Linked DNA regions of Homo sapiens: region 1 is linked to region 2. Evidence: fine-mapped expression QTL. A gene starts in region 2. The other region holds a variant in brackets. All regions are shown on one strand. Distances are between the middles of the regions.

Region 1 (8,624 bases), 68 kb before region 2:
ACAGGAAAGGTCAGTCCAGTGATCCGAGACGTGCAGGGTTATGGCTGGGGGCGTGGGGACTCCCATCTCTGGTGAAGCGTCGGGGTAGGTGGGTGGGGCTGGGCTTCCTTTCTGCTGCTGCTCAAAGTTGGTTCTGCTCAGAAGCATCCTCCCATTCATATGAATAACGGCGATCACTGATGATAAATGAAGGTGTGCCTGCCCCGTGCCAGGGCTGGGCTGGGTGCCCTGGGGACAGCTGAGAGGAGTCGGAGGTGGAATCCATCCTGAGAGCAGGGGCACAGCTTTCACCACCTTTATCTCATCCCCGGAGCCTGACACAGGCTGGGCCCTCAGGGGGCAGCTTAGTAATGCCTTAGTCATTGAAAAACAGGGACCTGGCCTCTCTGACGAGATGCCCACTGTCCAAGGGTACACTGGTCCACAGCATGGCCCCGCAGCCTGACCTCTCCCCTCACCGTGGCTCTCTGGATCCTTCAAGGGGCTCCTGCCAGTGACTGTAGTGGGTGACTGGAGCCTCTTCCCCCAACGTCACACAGCATGTGGGCTGGATGAGCCACCTCCCCTCTCAGTGTCTTGGTTTCCTCTTCTGCACAGGGGCGTCTTGGCAGGCCCTACCTCAAAGGGCTGTTGGCTGGGAAGATTAAATGAGATGATGAGCCCCACGCACTATCATCAATGACGCTTATGCTTATGGGGAGTGGGGTGGGAAGCACCTCTGCTCTCCATGCATGACTTCATGAATTCTTTTTTTTTAAAGATGGAGTCTCACTCTGTCGCCCAGCCTGGAGTGCAATGGCATGGTCTCGGCTCACTGCAACCTCCGCCTCCTGAGTTCAAGTGATTCTCTTGCCTTAGACTCCCAAGTAGCTGGCATTACAGGCGCCTGCGACCATGCCCAGCTAATTTTTGTATTTTTAGTAGAGATGGAGTTTCATCATGTTGGCCAGACTGGTCTCGAACTCCTGACCTCAGGTGATCTGCCCGTCTCAGCCTCCCAAAGTGCTGGGATTACAGGTGTGAGCCACCGTGCCCGGCCCATGGATCCTTTAACAGCCCTCTGAGGGGGGATCTGTCCTGTCTCTTTACTGATAGAGATGGTGAGGCACAGAGAGGTGGGGAAACACCCAGGGTCACGTAGCATAGGAGTGGCAGCAGCAGGATTTAAAAGCGGGTCTCTTGCACTCCAAGGTCCACGTGTTAGCCAGTGCACCAGGCAAGGGATAAAGGACTTAGTGTGAGAGCTCCTTTGGAATTGGAGTTGCAGAGGCTCTGGCTTCCTGTGCTGATCTCCTGCAAGCCTCCAGCCCCCAGTCACGTCTGTCAGCAGCTCTGAGAGCCCTCCTTGGGCCTCTCACCTCCCACATGAGCAGGGAATCAGCAGGCAAGGTCCGGGCGGTGAGGATGGGGGATTTCCCGACTCACTTGAGATCCGTCACATTAATGTTAATTAAGCCTTGTTAATTCAGCCCTCTGCTTACACATGGCTCCTGACAGCAAATTGCTCATAAGTGAGGCAGTAAATTTATTGCTGCTTTTTCCAAACATTTAGCAGCAAAGACGGTGCCCCAGGAAAGGCAGAGGAGAGACCTGGAGGGCCAGTGATGCTTGGTTCCTGCTAGCCTGAACCCCCCAGGATCCTCATGGCCTAGAGAATAAGGTGGGGCTCCCCAGGAGACCTGGGTGAGAATGAAATTCTGGCCTGCTCGGAGCATACTGCCTGGAGATGCGGTGAGCACTGTCTCAGCACTAACTCTCTGGTAGCTCTGTGCTCTGTGAACATCCCGTTCCCTGCGCTGTCCTCCCACAGTGCCTTGAAGTGTGCCCTGCACAGTAGGGCTCAGCAAAGGTGTGTTTGGATTTGGATGTGCAGCCCCGAGCCCACCTCCATGTCAGGAAAGCCTCGCTGCAGTGCAGTCTGATAGGAGAGCCAGCAGCCTCCGCAGGGACTGAGCGCCCTGCATCCTGAGGTGTGCACCTGGGGCCAGACCACTCCGCCAGGGCTGCTGGGAAGGGGTCTCTCCCTGTCCTGGGTCATAGGAGCACTGTTGGAACCAGGATCAGGCTCAGATTCTGGGCCTGTGACCCCAGCCCCTTGCTAGGCTAGGTATCTACTCACCAGGTGAGGGGGAAGCCTCTCCTGGGTATAGTGGGACACCCTCGTCCTAGGTCCTGCTTCCCGCCTTGGCCTCAGACTGGGTCGTGCCTGGACCAATTGAACAAACCCAGGCTTTGGGTACCTAGAATTTTAAAAAATTAATTAGAGCATTAAATGGCAGCCCTCTGGGAGAATCCCACCATCTGGCTGTCATGGGAGAGGCAAGAAAATCTATGCATATTTGTCTGCAGTGTGTGAGCATCATATGAAGCCAACTGTGCATGTGTGGGTATGCGGTCTGTGTGCTGCAGTGTGTGTCCAGCATGACATGCGTGTCTGAGTATGTTCAGTATGTGGCGCACACCTGAGTGTGCAAGTGGGTGGTGTGTGCCTTGCTGTATGCACGGGTGCCCATCTGCAAGTACATGCGCTGTGTGCATGTGCCTGAGTGTCTGCACGTCTGTCTGAACATACCTCTGTGTGTGGTCCATGCTCAGGCCTGCCTTTTTGGTGCAGTGAGCCAGGCTGAGCTGTGTGCAGATAGGGAAGGGGCTCGTGACTCCTCCTGGCTGAGGTGGTGGGCACAGACAGCTGTGTAGAAGGTGGGACGGGGTAAGTGTGGCAAGTGCACAGCTGGCCTTCAGTGGGTGAGGCAGGGCAGGCATCCTTGCCCTCATTTGACAGATGGGAAAACCCAAAACTGGAGCCTGGGCTCTGGGGCTCCCTGCGTGGTGCTCTTTCTGTTCCAGCGGGCTGCTGCCCTGGCTGGCACCTATGCTTTTGGCATCTTTATGCTGTTAGATTTTCATGGTGGCTCAAAGTGGTTCTGAGAGAGTACCACCCCCCCTACTCAGTATTGCTCAGGGGGCAAGGTCAGGATTCCCACTGCACATCCTGTGTTCTTCCTGTTTCAAGGAGGAGATATCAGGGCTGCTGGAGAATGCTGGGCCTGATAGTCCTCTGACTGCTGTGTGACCTGGGCCCATCCTGTCCCTCTCTGAACCTCAGGGGTGATTGTAAGAACTAAATGAGGAGACATATACAAAGGGCTTCGTAAACCAGGAGATGAGGTGAGGTGATGTAGACAGATGAGGGCCTGGCCCAGAGATGGCATCACAATACGATCAGAGCCAAAGCTGAGGCCCAAGTTCATGTGTCCCAGGGTTTCCTGAGGAGCAGGCCAGGAGGTGGGACCCAGGACAGAGGCAGGTGCCCTCCCAGCCTTGCAGACTCTGAACCTGTCCTCAGAACCATCTGCCTGGTGCCAGCACTCTCCTCCAACTCCAGCCCCAGACACATGGCTCATGGCAGTGAAGTAAAGCAGGAACAGACCCAGGGAGCAGTGGGATCCAACCCCTCAACTGGTGTTGACGCTGAGGCCCAGAGAGGGGGAGTGGCTTACTCAAAGCCACGCAGCAGCTCGGGGGGTAGAGCTGGGACCAAAACCCAGGCCTCCTGGCCCCTGGCTCTGTTCTCCTTGGTACCATACCACTGTCTTTGGCAAGAGAAAGAGGACACAAGAGCTAGTTCACATGCCTGGAGAAAAGGATGTGGGAGTGCCACCCAGCTAGACAGCACTAGAACAGACCAGAGCCCCACTTCCTGCATGAATGGAGGATCTGAAGCAAGGCTTCAATGATTACTGCTTTTCCTAGGTATGCAGAATGCTGGAGGGTAAATAGGGTTTGTGTCCTGGGCTGTACATTCTGTATAGATGGAAAAGCCCCAGGCTTCCAGATTGCCTGCATGCGATGCCTTCAGCACACGCTTCCTCAGTGCCTGCCTCCACCGAGCTGCTAGTCTGGTAGAGAAAGATGGTTGAGTGCCACCAACACAGGATGATGAGGCTGTGGATCAGAAGAGGTCTCTGATCCCACATGGGGTCGTGGAAAGCTTCCCAATAGAATAGAGAAGGGGAGGAGGGTCCTCCACTCCCAACTCCCAGAGAGTGAGGAATGTGTGCGCCTCAGACACCCTGGCCCCCTGGCAGTCTGGGCCTCATAAGAGCTCATGCTTGGGCAGGCTCACCGTTCACCCTGGA[G/A]TGGGTGGCTGGGTGCCTTCCAGCTTCCTCCTCAGCGCCTCTCCTGTGCCAGGGCCCATGCACGTGGGTGGAGGAGAGGCCATTCTAGAGGCCCCTGGCTCCCTGTGGGGCTGAGGAGAGACTAGTGTGGGGGCAGGGGTGGAGGTGCAGGGAAGCTGGTGGCCAGACCTCCTGTGACCTCCACTCATTGCCTGTGTGTCCAGGTGGGCCAGTCTCAGCTGCCCCGCTTGGCGTTATAACCATTGTGGTGTTAGCCAGGGACGAGGCTTCTGAAGTAGCCTGCACTGTGAGCCCCGCTGGCTGCCAGGTAATAATTCCACCCGCCTTGACCTTTTTCTCCAAGGAACAGGCCTTCTACTTTATACATGGAGAAAACAAGTCACAGAAGAACCAGGTGGCCCAGGATGACAGAGGCTAGGCCTCCAGATGCCCTTTAAAAATTGCAACAAAAACCTCTTAAGGACTCACTGTGTACAAAGCCTGGTGGTGGGGCTGCCACAGCGGCTGGGATAAAGGGAGGAGGAACTTCGGTCACTGAATATTTTCTGTGTGCCATCCCTTATGTCGGGCACTGATAGACGTGATCTAGCAACCAACTGCCCTCCGAGTCAGGATCTACCACCACATTTTTAAATGAGGAAACATGGGCTCAGAGCGGTCAGGTAGCCTGCCTGAGGTCGCTTAGCTAGTAAGGGACAAAGGCGTGATTTGAGTCCTGCGTTCCTTCACCTGTTTTTGTGGGAGAATGGCCATGTCAGGCAGCAGACTGGGATCTTCCAAACCTTAGTTCTGGGAGGAAGGTTCACTTGCAGGAAAAACCAAGGTGAGTGGAATCATCTTCAGGCAGCCAGCAGTGCTCACTGGGCAGGCTGTTTAAAAGTGGCTTCCTCTTCAAGCTGTAGTGGGACCTGTCTTACTGGGGGAGCCATGCTGGCTCAGAACCCCTAGGCTGATGGGCACCCCTCTGTAAGGGGCTCTGAGAAGTGGCCGGTGTGGCTGAGGTCTGGGCCAGGATGCCAGTGGGCGGTGAGGGTTTGCTGGGCACATGACCCCACACCTTTCCTCTTCTTGCCTCCCACAGCCATGTCTGTCCCCTTCTGCCCAGCTCTGGTTGGAGGTGCTGAGCTGGGGCTTGTGGCCATGAACCATCCCCATACTGCTGGCCCTGGGGCTGGCCTCAGATGGGTGGGTGGTCCCGGCCAGAGCCCTGAACCCCGGCCCTGCCAGAACCAACACCTGGAGACATGGCCACCTCCGAAGGTCTTACCTAACTGCAGGGCGTGCCAGCATCTAGCAGGGTCCCTCACGCACAGTTGGCCTGCTGCTTGATTATTTTGGCTTCCAGCAGCAGAGACCTGAGACTTTCCCGGTAGCATAGGAGTCAGCAGAAGCTTGGCCTTCCCAGAACATGGGACCAGAGGAGGTGTCCTGGACAGGGCCAGGTGAGGGGAGGCTGCTGGTGGCCCCTCACTGAGCCTTTCTGCAGTGGGCCTGGGGACCCCCTCTGCCCTGAGCATTTGCCAAGCAGTCCAGTGGCTGCGCGTGGGCCTGCCTTTCCTCCCCCACTTTGGCATGGCTGTCTCCCAGGAAACGGGGAATTTTCCCTCATTCCCATCATTAGGGTGCCAGGGCAAACAAACAGTCTAATCCAGATGAGCCCTGGGCCACAATCACACTCTCTTTGGGGGTTTTCTCTTCACTTGGAGCAATGTTGAGAAGGCTGGAGTAATTGGTATTCCACCCAGGTTAATAGAACTGCTGCCTCCTCGGTATTATGCCTTAATTTCCTTTATCGCTCAGCAAGTTGGAATTCATCGCCCCTTTCCTTTCTTTTTCCCACCGAAACCTATCACCAGCCTGTCTGCTGGGTAAAGTCATTTCATGGCAGCTCTTGGCTCCTTTCCACTTCCCTGGGAGTCTTTCTGACCGAGCCAAAGAACAAGGAGGGGTGAAAAATCCATTTGTACAAAGTGGGGATCTCCTGTTGAGAGCTTATTTCCCTCCCCGTTCAAGAGGAAGGAACGTGTTCAGCCTCCAGCCAGCACGGCTGACTGAGTCCCCTGTCGCTGAGAGCATTCAAGAGGGCGAATGGCCATATGTCAGCGGTGGGAACAGAGGATTCCAGCACTGGTGGGGGTTGGGGGAAAGGGGCAGGCCTTTGCCACTCCTGGTGCCTGGATTAGATTAGAAGCTTCTAGGGTTTTGTTCTGTTTGTGAGTCTAAGATTTGTGATTTAAAACTGGAAAGATTCTGTGGCTCCTTGGTCCTAACGTTCAACGGAATGAGCCTAAGTACTTGTAAATTGTGTGTTTTACGATTCTCAGATCCTGAGACAGGGAGATTCTGTTCTGTGATTCGAAGACTATCTTATGATTCCTCCAGTCTCTTCAGCGGCAGTTTTGTTCCTGACTGGGTCTTGGGAGGAGTGCAATTGCTTTGCTGAGGTTGCCATGGGAGCGCGAGGCTGCTGTGGCCCCTTTTCTCATGTATGAAATCCAAGGGCTGGGCCACATGGCCCTGGGGCCCAGGTGTGTTCAGCCTGCAGCCCCCTTGGCTCCACCAGAGCCTCCCACAGGCCCTGTGAGGACTGGCTGCTCCCCACCACCTCACTGGACCCAGATGCTTTTCCAGCTAAGCCATGCCCCTTGCCTGTCTGCCCCCGGCCCTCTCCCATTCGAACGGGGAGGCAACCCAGCTCTCCCCAAAGTCCCTGTAGGAAAGCTGGAGCAGTGGGGGAGTGGTGGTGGTAAGAAATAAGCCGCATGATTGACAAGAGCTCTACCTGCTTTTGTGGTGATGTGCAATTTCACCATGAATTTCAACATTACAACCTCTCTTAATTCCCACCCTCTGAGGTGGTTAGCCCCATTTTATTGTTGAGGAAGCTGAGGCTCTGAGAGGTTAAGTCACTCACCTATAATCATACAGGTTGTTCCCAGGCCCTGACTCTGGATCACCTGCTGTAGTACGGCTCTAGGCCGCCTGGGCAGCATGATGAAACTGTCTCTACAACAAAAATCCAAAAAAAAAAAAAAATTAGCTGGGTGTGGTGGTGCACGCCTGCAGTCCCAGCTACTTGGGAAGCTGGGGTGTGAGGATGGCTTGAGCCTGCAAGGTTGAGGCTGCAGTGAGCTGAAATACTACTGCACTCCAGCCTGGCCAACAGGGAAACCCTGTCTCCAAAAAAAAAAAAAAGGCATTGATTGGCCCAAGGTCATATGGCTTGAGGCAGGACCAGAACCCAGGTCATCTCATTCCTAATGCAGTGCAAGCAAAGGAAAAAGCGAGAGGTGGACATTCATCATAGAGTCTATAGCCAAACTGAGGAACAAAAACCCTGGGTGTAACAGCCACAACCCAGAACAAAAGGAGATGGGTCTTGGTTAGACTCCGGGGTGGTGACGTCACTCATCTCCCCTCTCTGGGCCTCAGTGCCCCGGCTGTAAAACAAGGACACCGACCTTGGTGGTCTCCAAGCCCACATCATGTTAGGTTCCGGTCTAACGTGAGCCCGAGGCTGGGAATCTGCTTGTTGGGTGGGGGTTGTGGACCACACGCTTACACCTCCCTGTTGGAACCAATCCTGGGGCGGTTAAAGAGCTTCAGAGAATGGACCCCATTTCCTTCCAAACGCACTGAGAAGCCAGAAGCAGCCTTCTCCATCTGCTTTCAGAATCCACCTTTTCCTTCTGGATCAAACATAGTTCCTCGGGGCAGGCTTCCTCAGCCCCTACTACTGCCAGCCAAAATCACCCCCTTTCTTTGAGGACCAGCTTAAAATGTCTCTCTTCCAGGCAGTGAGCCCTCCCCAGGCCTGCCTCCTCTCCCTCCAGCAGACCTTACTCACAGGCAAGGGAGATGCAGGCTTGGAGACCACCAAGGTCAGTGTCCTTGTTTTACAGCTGAGGCACTGGGGTCCAGAGAGGGGAGATGAGTGACGTCACCACCCCAGAGTCTAACCAAGACGCATCTCCTTTTGTTCTGGGTTGTGGCTGTTACACCTGGGGTTCTCCTTTCCTCAGTTTGGCTATAGACTCTCTGAAGGAAGGTCCACCTCTCACTTTTTCCTTTGCTTGCACAGCATTCGGGATGAAACAACCTGCGTTCTGGTCCTGCCTCAAGCTACATGACCTTGGGACAATCAATGCCTTTTTTTTTTTTTAAGACAGGGTTTCCCTCTGTTGCCCAGGCTGGAGTGCAGTAGCATGATCATGGCTCACTGCAGCCTCAACCTCCCGGGCTCAAGCCAGCCGACCACCCCAGCCTCCCAAGTAGCTGGGACTGCAGATGTGTACCACCATGCCCAGCTAATTTTTTTTGGTATTTTTGTTGTTGTAGAGATGGGGTTTCACCATGTTGTCCAGGCTGGTATTGAACTCCTGGGCTCAAGTAATCTGCCTGCCTTGGCCTCCCAAATTTCTGGCATTACAGGCGTGCGCCACCATGCCTGGCCAGTTCATGCCTTTTAAGGTCTTTGCTTCCTAA
Region 2 (8,680 bases):
TAGTGCCCCCAAAGAGCAATTGTACATGTAGCATTCTCTGCCTAAATTTTCCTTCTCTGCCTCCACATGACTAACTCCTATTTGTCCTTGAGTACTCCACTTAGGTAATGCCTCCTCCAGGAAGCCTTCCCTTTTCTCTAAGACTAGGTTAGATAACTCACCTCTGTACTTCGATAACAATTTTTGCCTACTTGCATCCCAATACTTCTGCCTTACCATTCATTCCCATGCCATTGGGGTTGCTTTTGCCAAGGTCATCCAGGACCTCCTCGATTATAAATCTGGTAAACATTTTCAGTCTTGCTCTTCCTTGACCTGGAAGCAGTAGTTAACACTGTTAGCCACTCTTTTCTTGGCATATTCTTATTTTGGCTTCCATGATAACATTTCATGTTTTTTCTCCTATCTCTCTGGCCACATCTTAGTATCCTTTGCCTACCCCTTAAATTATGGTATTCCATCTCAAATCCATCCACTTTTCTATCTCCATTACTTTTTTTTTTTTTTTTTTTTAAGAGACAGGGTCGTACTCTGTTACCCAGGCTGGAGTACAGTGGTAGGATCATAGCTCATTGCAACCTCCGCCTCCTGGGCTCAAGCAATTCTCCTGTCTCAGCCTCCCGAGTAGCTGGGGCTACAGGTGCACGCCACCCTGCCCAGCTAATAGATTACTTAAACTACTTATCTGAATGTCATACTTCTAGTCTTTTCATTTTCCAATCTAACCTACAAGACTGCAGCCAAAGTGTCTTTCTAAAGTACCATAGATGTATCACCACCACTTCTTTCCACTTTCCTGCTTAAAGCTCTTCAACTGCTTTGCTGGCACAAAAATCCAATATTCTTGGGTTTGCCCAAACTCTTTTAATATGGCTTATAAAACCCTTCATGATTTGGCTTCTGCCCTGTCTCCAGCTTCATCACTCACTACTCTATATTCTAATCACACAGTTCTGGGCCTCCGTCTGGAACATTTCCTTCAGGAACATTTCCCTAAGGACCCTGCACTGGATTAGGAGTCACCTCATGTGCTTCCATAGTCCTCTGTGCTTCCTTTATTGGTAATCTTATCCTTACATTGTAATTGCTTGTATGCTCCTTAACTGCCTCCTCTGCAAGCTCTGTGAACAACTGTCTTGCTCAACATTGTATCCTCTCTGCACATGACACTCAGTGGATGCTCAAATAAATGATGCTGAATGCAGGCACTGCAGACACACAGACCATGCTCTTTCAGTTACACCATGTCTCATATCCAGAAACCTGGATTACTTCACAGCCTGACTGGAGTTGTGTGTCCTTTAAATTTCTCAACACTTTTGTTATTTGCCACATCTGAAGATCCCCAGATTCACTTATGATTTTTATAATTTTACTCCTGGAAAATAACCTTGTAGCAATTGCTTAATCCCTCTACATACTTAACTCTAATTACCACCTCAAGATTGTTGTGATGATTCAAAGAACAAGCACAGGTAATCCCATTGACCCTAGGGGCTGACATTTATTAGGTGCTTGATACCTGGTCCCTTTTCTTTTTTTCTCTTTTTTTTTTTTTTTGAGACAGGGTCTTGCTTTGTCACCCAGGCTGGAGTGTAATGGTGTGATCATGGTTCCCTACAGCCTCGACCTCCCAGGCTCAAATTATCCTCCTACCTCAGCCTCCCAAGTAGCTAGGACTACAGGTGTGCACCACCACACCTACCTATTTTTTAAATTTTTTGTAGAGACAGTCTCCTATGTTGCCCAGGCTGGTCTCAAACTCCTGGGCTCAAGTGATCCTCCTGCCTCAGCCTCCCAAAGTGCTGGGACTACAGGTATGAGCCACTGTGTCTAGCCCCCTTCTCGTTTATACAATTCCCTTGTTACCACCCATATCCAGTGTTTTGTAATAAAAATGTCTTATGGTTTTACAGCAATTTAGTTTCCGAGACATTGTTTCTTACAACAGTTCTGCTAGGTGTACATTATTATGCTCATTTTAAAGAGAAGGAAACTGAAGTCTAAAAAGTTGAGTCGGTTCACCTTTGGTTACAATGAGTCATTGTTACACAGGGATTATTTTAACCTGTGTCCAGTGATTTTTCCCCCACCACACCTACTCTACACTCTGCTGCTAATGCTTTTGCAGGGAGAAAAGGACTCCGTGTTAAGACTGAGGGCCGGGCGCGGTGGCTCATGCCTGTAATCCCAGCACTTTGGGAGGCCGAGGCAGACGGATCGCCTGAGGTCGGGAGTTCGAGACCAGCCTGGCCAACATGGTGAAACCCCGTCTCTACTAAAAACAGAAAATTACAAAAATTAGCTGGACATGGTGGCGCATGCCTGTAATCCCAGCTACTTGGGAGGCTAAGGCAGGAGAATCACTTGAACCCAGGAGTTTGAGACCAGCGTGGGCAACATAGGGAGACTTTGCCTCTACAAAAAGTTTAAAAATTAGGTAGGCGAGGTTGCGGTGAACTGAGATCACTCCATTGCACTCCAGCCTGGGCAACAAGAGCGAAACTCCGTCTCAAAAAGAAAAGACTGGGAATAGGAATCAGAGACTGCTGTCCCAACTTACAGAATCGTATACAGTTCTAGCCGCCAGGACCCAAGAATGATGTCATCTCGGCACTGTCTCTAGAACCATTCATTCTTTCTAAGCCTGGAACTTAGATGAGTGAAAGCAGGTTCCTATTACATAATTATGATCTTGATTGCCCTGGGCCTACTCAACTGTAAATTTTTTCCAGAGCCAGAAAGGCTTCACAGAGGACAACTTTACCCTGAAAAGAAAGGACCTCTTTGGTCAGTGGTCCTCAACTCTGACTCACCTGAAAGCTTTACAAAAAGTACCAATGCCCAGGTCCAGCGCTGGAGATTTTAACTGGCTTGGGGTAGAGCCCTGGCATCAGTATTTTTAGAGGCTTCCCAAGTGATTGCAATGTGCAGCCAGGCAGAGAATTACTGCTCGGTAAGTGGGATGACTGGGGAGTGGGAGATCAAATACTCTAACGTCTCCCAGCACCTATTCTAGAGATCAGTGGGGCAGAAAGGTAGAAATAAAAGGTGGAAAGGGATGAAATGGGTAAGTGTGGGTGAATTAGTTCCAGGAAAACGGCAATCTCCACTGTGGATTCAGGGAAGGCGTCACTGAGGAGGGCTTTCTTAACAGTTCAGGTCAGTGGAAGCCAACTTGAGGCACACATCGTGCGCGGCATCCTCCGGGGAGGTCGGGTCATTTCACCCCATTTTACTGCCGAGATGACCTAGGTCCAGAGACGGTAAAGAGCGGTGTACGACTCACACAAGTCGGGGGTCCTGTGAACCGAGGTTGAGCCTGGCGGGCCTTCGGCCCGAGGTCTTTAAGCGAAGTCACCAGACCCGGGGTTCAAAGCCCAGAGGTAGGCAGGCGGCTGGCTCTCCGCCTCAGGCCTGGAGAGAACCCAGGGGTATGAACCTCAACCTCGCTCCCGCGTCCAGCTGGAGGGGCGGAGCTGGCTGGCCCCGCCTCCGGGTTAAACAAAGTTCTTTACAGACTAGGCGTGAGGGGATGTTGCAGTCTTGTTGCCACTTCCGGGCGAAGAGGTTAGCGAGAAGGAACCCCTCCACGCAGCGACGACGGGACCTGACGTCACTTCCGCGCGCCGCCGCAAACGTCAGTGTCGGGCGCAGACGGCGGCAGTGCGGCTTGCTCTTGGAAGTTCAGGCTCGGTTGTCTTTTGGGAGCCATGGAGAGTGACTTTTATCTGCGTTACTACGTGGGGCACAAGGGCAAGTTCGGCCACGAGTTCCTGGAGTTTGAGTTTCGACCGGACGGTAAAAGCAGCCTGCCGCCCGCCGGGAGCGGGGACCAGGCCTGGGGGCCGGCGAGTGGGGAGGCCGAGGGTCGGAAATCTGTGGGGAACTAGAGGAGGGAGGGACTGAGACCTGTGCAGTGCAGATCTTAAAGGAACGCCACTGTGTCTGCTCCACGGGGTCTTTCTATCCATTCAGCAAACGTTGACTGAACGCCCACTGTGTGCCAGGCTCTGTTCCACTCTTTGGGAATACGGCAGCGAAGGTAGACAAACTTCCCCTCTCGTGGAACTTGTGTTTTACTGCCGGGAGAGAGATCATAAACAAAAAGATGATTCCAGATAGCAGTGAGTGGTCAAAAAATAACATGGTAGAATAATTGCTGGATGGGCTGCTTTTAGATAGGTTGGCCATTAGAGAGCTCTCTGTAAAGGGTATATTGCAGCCGAGTCCTAATTAACAAGAAGGGCTCAGCCTTGTGAAGCTCATAAGGAAGACCATTCTACACAAAGGGAATACCAGATGTCAAGGCTGCAGGGCGGGAATGAGCTAGGCGTGTCTCAGGTGGTCAGTGTGGTTGAAGAGTGGTGAGCTGGGAGATAGCAGGAGATGATGTCGGATAGGTAGGTAGGAGCGGCACCTCTTAGGTCTTTATAGACCACGGTAAAAAGTTTGGACTTGGAAGGCCTTTTTTTTTTTTTTTTTTTTGAGACGGCTTTCGCTCTTTTTGCCCAGGCTGGAGTGCAATGGCGCGATCTCGGCTTATTGCAACCTCCGCCTCCCGGGTTCAAGTGATTCTCCTGCCTCAGCCTCCCGAGTAGCTGGAATTATAGGCGCCCACCACCACGCCCGGCTAATTTTGTATTTTTAGTAGAGACGGAGTTTCACCATGTTGGCCAGGCTGGTCTCGAACTCCTGACCTCAGGTGATACGCCCGCCTCGGCGTCCCAAAGTGCTGGGATTACAGGTGTGAGCCACCGCGCCCGGCCGGGCTTGGAAGGTTTTAAGCAGAGAAGAAATGTGATCTCTTCTTGAAAAAGCATTCTGGTTATTGGGTGCGGAATGGGCAAGAGTGGAAACAGGGCTATTGATTAGGAGACTGTTGCAGTTGTCAAGACACGAAAGATGTTGGGGGCCGGGCGCGGTGGCTCAAGCCTGTAATCTCAGCCCTTTGGGAGGCCGAGGTATGCGGATCACTTGAGGTCAGGAGTTCAAGACCAGCCTGGCCAACATGGTGAAACCCCGCCTCTACTAAAAATACAAAAATTAGCCGGGTGTGGTGGCAGACGCCTGTAATCCCAGCTGCTCGGGAGGCTGAGACAGGAGAATCTCTTGAACCTGGGGCGGAGGTTGCAGCAAGCTGAGATAGTGCCACTGTACCCCAGCCTGGGTGACAGAGCAAGACTCTGTCTCAAAAAAAAAAAAAAAAAAAGATACTGGTTGGGACTACAGAGATAGTAGAAATGGAGAGAAAGATTTAGGAAACTGTTGGAGGCAGAACCAACTGGACTTTGATCGTTGATAGGATTTTGTTGGCAGAGGCACTGTGGTGAAGGAAAGAGCAATCAAAGATGACAGAAGACATCCACTAAGTGGGGCACAAAGATGAATCTGACAGGCCTCGACTGTGAGGGAGATAGATTTGTAAGCAGTGATAAAACAGCACATTAGGTGTTGTGGTAAAAAGAAACAGAGGAGGCTCGCAGCAGAGAAGGGTGCACCTAACCAAGCCTGAGGGTCAGAGGAGGCTTCCTACATAAAATGATGGGAGGAGGGGATGTGAGGAATTGGTTAGGAGACGAAGAAGAGTCAAGAAGGCATTTTAGACAGCATGCAAAGAAGCTGAAAACCAAAAAGTGCTTGGGATGTTTCAGGCAGAAACCAAGTAGTTTGACTTCAGCTGTGTGAGAGAAGAATATTGGCAGGAATGAGGCTGGAAAAGCAGGCAGGGGCTTAGCTTAGCTGTATGCCATGTTGAGGAGTTTGGATTTTACCAGGAAGGCAGTGGAAAGCCATTGACTTTATCAAAGTATTAGAGTAACCTAATCTGATAGATCTGTTACCACATCACCTTGTCCACTGTATGGACAGTGAACTGAATGTGAAGAAACTTGAGGCAGAGAGACAGCACAGAGGCTGTTGGAATAAATTCACTGGGCTCATCTCACATGTATGTCTTCTAGTCTACATGTCTTCTATTTCCTTCTGTCTTCTCCTCATCCCCACCATTAATCTGTCAGATGCACACATGGGCAAAGGGTCTTGTGTACCAAATGTGCTCAGTGATAAAAGCAGCAGCTTCTCCATCACAGAAATAGAGTATGGCACAGTCACATGATAATATATGTAAACTGCATCCTACAGTTTTCAAAATGTTTTCACAGCTCATTTGAGCCTCAGGAGGTCCTATGTGTCGGTAAGTTATCAGTTACTAGGCCTGTTTTCAGGACATTCACCTGCAAAAATGTGATTTGACAAAGTCAGAAAAGAGCCTGCCTGTGTTTATACCCCACCTGAGCTGCTTTTTGCAGTAGTTGAGTTTCAGCTGTATATTTGGCTGTTTAAGCCTGAAGTGAAGAACTGAAAAGACTAGTATTGTTGAAATACCTTAAGAGTAAATAATAAATCTGTTAGACACTTTTAGCAAGTTAGATACATTTTGGGCAACTGCTGATGCCTTGGCATGGTATTGATGCTTTATTCATATGTTTTTATTATACGTTGAAATTGTTTTTTGCCCCCACAGGGAAGTTAAGATATGCCAACAACAGCAATTACAAGAATGATGTCATGATCAGAAAAGAGGTATGAGCCTTCTGCCTTCTGAGAGTCCTTCATTTGCTACATTTCAGCTTTTTGTCTTGCATTGTTTTTATTGTTTCTAGTAGTATTGAAAGATAAAGAACAGGGAGAGAGACACATGTCTGTAGACAGCTTCTGGATTATTTCCCAAATCATCTTTTAGTTGGGATTTTTTTATTTTACATTGTGGAATCAATTACTGGTAACCTTTGACATACCTTGGTTTGAACCCTGAGTCTGCTGCTTACTACCCCATGTGACCTTGGGCAAGTTCCTGGCTGAACTTGATAAATCTCTGTTTCTTCACCTGTAAAAACAGGAATAATAAAAGCTACCTCCCACTCCCAAGTGCTGTCATAAAATTAAATATGTTCTATTTAAAGTGCTCTATATTCCCTGTGTACATGGTACACAATGAAGAGCTATTTAATTTACATCTGAGTGGGAAAGGGAGCATGGGAAAGCAGTTGACATCATTGAATGCATGTTAGATGTCAGGCGTGGCATCTTATTTAACCCTGATTGTAAGCCCATGTGATGGGGGAGGGTATTATAGCCCCCTTACAAATAAGAAAATAAAGGCCCAGGTATTAATTATGAGGCTTGTTCTGAGTTACCCCTGCTAGTAAGAGATACAGCAGGAATTCCCAATCCTGCCCCAGTAAAGTTTGTATTCTCCGTTCTGTGATTTCTACTACATCATTAAGGCTTCATCAAAGCTACTCTTTCCTTTTAACCACTTTGCCACCTTTGAAAATGTCTTAGCATATATTTTCATATTGTTATTTTAGCTATTGATTTTATGCTTATTCACACATGTCAATATCCTCACTATTTTTTTACACAGGCATATCTTTTAAAATACATTTTGCTCCTCAGGAGTGTATTACCTAGTTAAGAATAACTGGCCGGGCGCGGTGACTCACACCTGTAATCCCAGCACTTTGGGAGGCCGAGGCGGGCGGATCACGAGGTCAGGAGATCGAGACCATCCTGGCTAATACGGTGAAGCCCTGTCTGTACTGAAAATACAAAAAAATTAGCCAGGCATGGTGGCGGGTGCCTGTAGTCCCAGCTACTTAGGAGGCTGAGGCAGGAGAATGGCATGAACCCAGGAGGCAGAGTTCGCAATGAGCCGAGATCGCACCACTGCACTCCAGCCTGGGCGACAGAGCAAGGCTCCGTTTCAAAAAAAAAAAAAAAAAAGAATAACCAGGGCATGTGGGTGTCGCAGTCTCTTTTTTGCTGCAACAAAATGCCTGAGACTGGGTAATTTGTAAGCAGTAAAAATATATTTCTCACAATTTTGGAGGCTGGAAAGTCCAAGATCAAGGCGCTGGCAAGTTCAGTGTCTAGTGAGGGCCCAGTCTCTGCTTCCACAACTGTGCCTTGTTTTTGCATCCTCCAGAAGGAATGAATGCTGTGTCCTCATATGGTGAAAGAACAAGAAAGGGGCCAGCTAGTTCCCTTAAGCTCTCTCCTAAAGCACTAATCTATCCCTGGGGCCTCTGCCCTCAAGGCCTGATCACCTCCTAAAGGCCCTATCTCTTAACACTGTTGCTTTGGGGATTAATTTCAGTATGATTTTTTTGGAGGAGACAAAAACATTCAAACCATGGCAGGGGGCACTCACAGACCTGTTTTGGGTTTCGTTGTGAGTTGGGTATGTGGGCAGGCAGAAGGGCCATGTGAACAGGATGTACCAGGAGGTAGTAACAGCTAGATAGGGGACTGAGGTGCAGTTACTGGATACTTCTGACCGTGTCCCTCACCTGCATCATGCCGAGGTTGAGCATGAATGTCTTCCCACTTAAGGAGATGCCAGAAATAAGTCTGCAGGAACAGTTATTTTTATCTTCCATCACTATCTGAGTCAAAGCACTGCTTAAGGATACAACATACATTTTGTTTTTTAACTTGCGTTCAGGCTTATGTACATAAAAGCGTGATGGAGGAACTGAAGAGAATAATTGACGACAGTGAAATTACCAAAGAGGATGATGCATTGTGGCCTCCTCCTGACCGAGTGGGCCGGCAGGTGTGTTTTATTGATTATCCTGTAGTGCAGAAATCTTACAAATAAGACCCCCCACACTCC

Which allele goes with the higher level. Positions count from the first base shown, and alleles are read on the strand shown. Sizes are in standard deviations (SD) of each study's normalised expression.
For the expression in thyroid of the gene that starts at base 3,644 in region 2, allele A in region 1 goes with a lower level than allele G (small effect, 0.27 SD a copy in GTEx).

Evidence for each region. PIP is the estimated chance that this variant, and not a neighbour inherited with it, causes the effect. A credible set is the group of variants that fine-mapping cannot tell apart.
Region 1: its variant is the best candidate, but not a certain one, in a credible set for the expression of MAGOH in thyroid (GTEx, PIP 0.64).

What each region holds. Positions count from the first base shown.
Region 1 is chr1:53,301,408-53,310,031 of GRCh38, reverse strand. The region is part of intron 2 of LRP8 (LDL receptor related protein 8); the gene reads left to right. It overlaps LOC105378726 (a long non-coding RNA gene), which reads right to left. Exons shown (of 6, transcript XR_007066090.1): 4 at 7,054-7,145; 5 at 2,120-2,240; 6 at 576-634. Among named protein-coding and RNA genes, the nearest start is that of LRP8, 22 kb to the left of the region's middle. RefSeq lists enhancers at 1-231, 232-733, 1,448-2,265. The variant G/A (reference allele first, on the strand shown) is at 4,140.
Region 2 is chr1:53,233,482-53,242,161 of GRCh38, reverse strand. MAGOH (mago homolog, exon junction complex subunit) reads left to right here and starts at 3,644. Exons shown (of 5, transcript NM_002370.4): 1 at 3,644-3,801; 2 at 6,527-6,585; 3 at 8,510-8,620. The coding sequence starts at 3,714. MAGOH-DT (MAGOH divergent transcript) reads right to left here and starts at 3,552. Exons shown (of 3, transcript NR_038953.1): 1 at 2,817-3,552; 2 at 217-315. RefSeq lists enhancers at 3,633-3,762, 3,803-3,862, 3,350-3,991.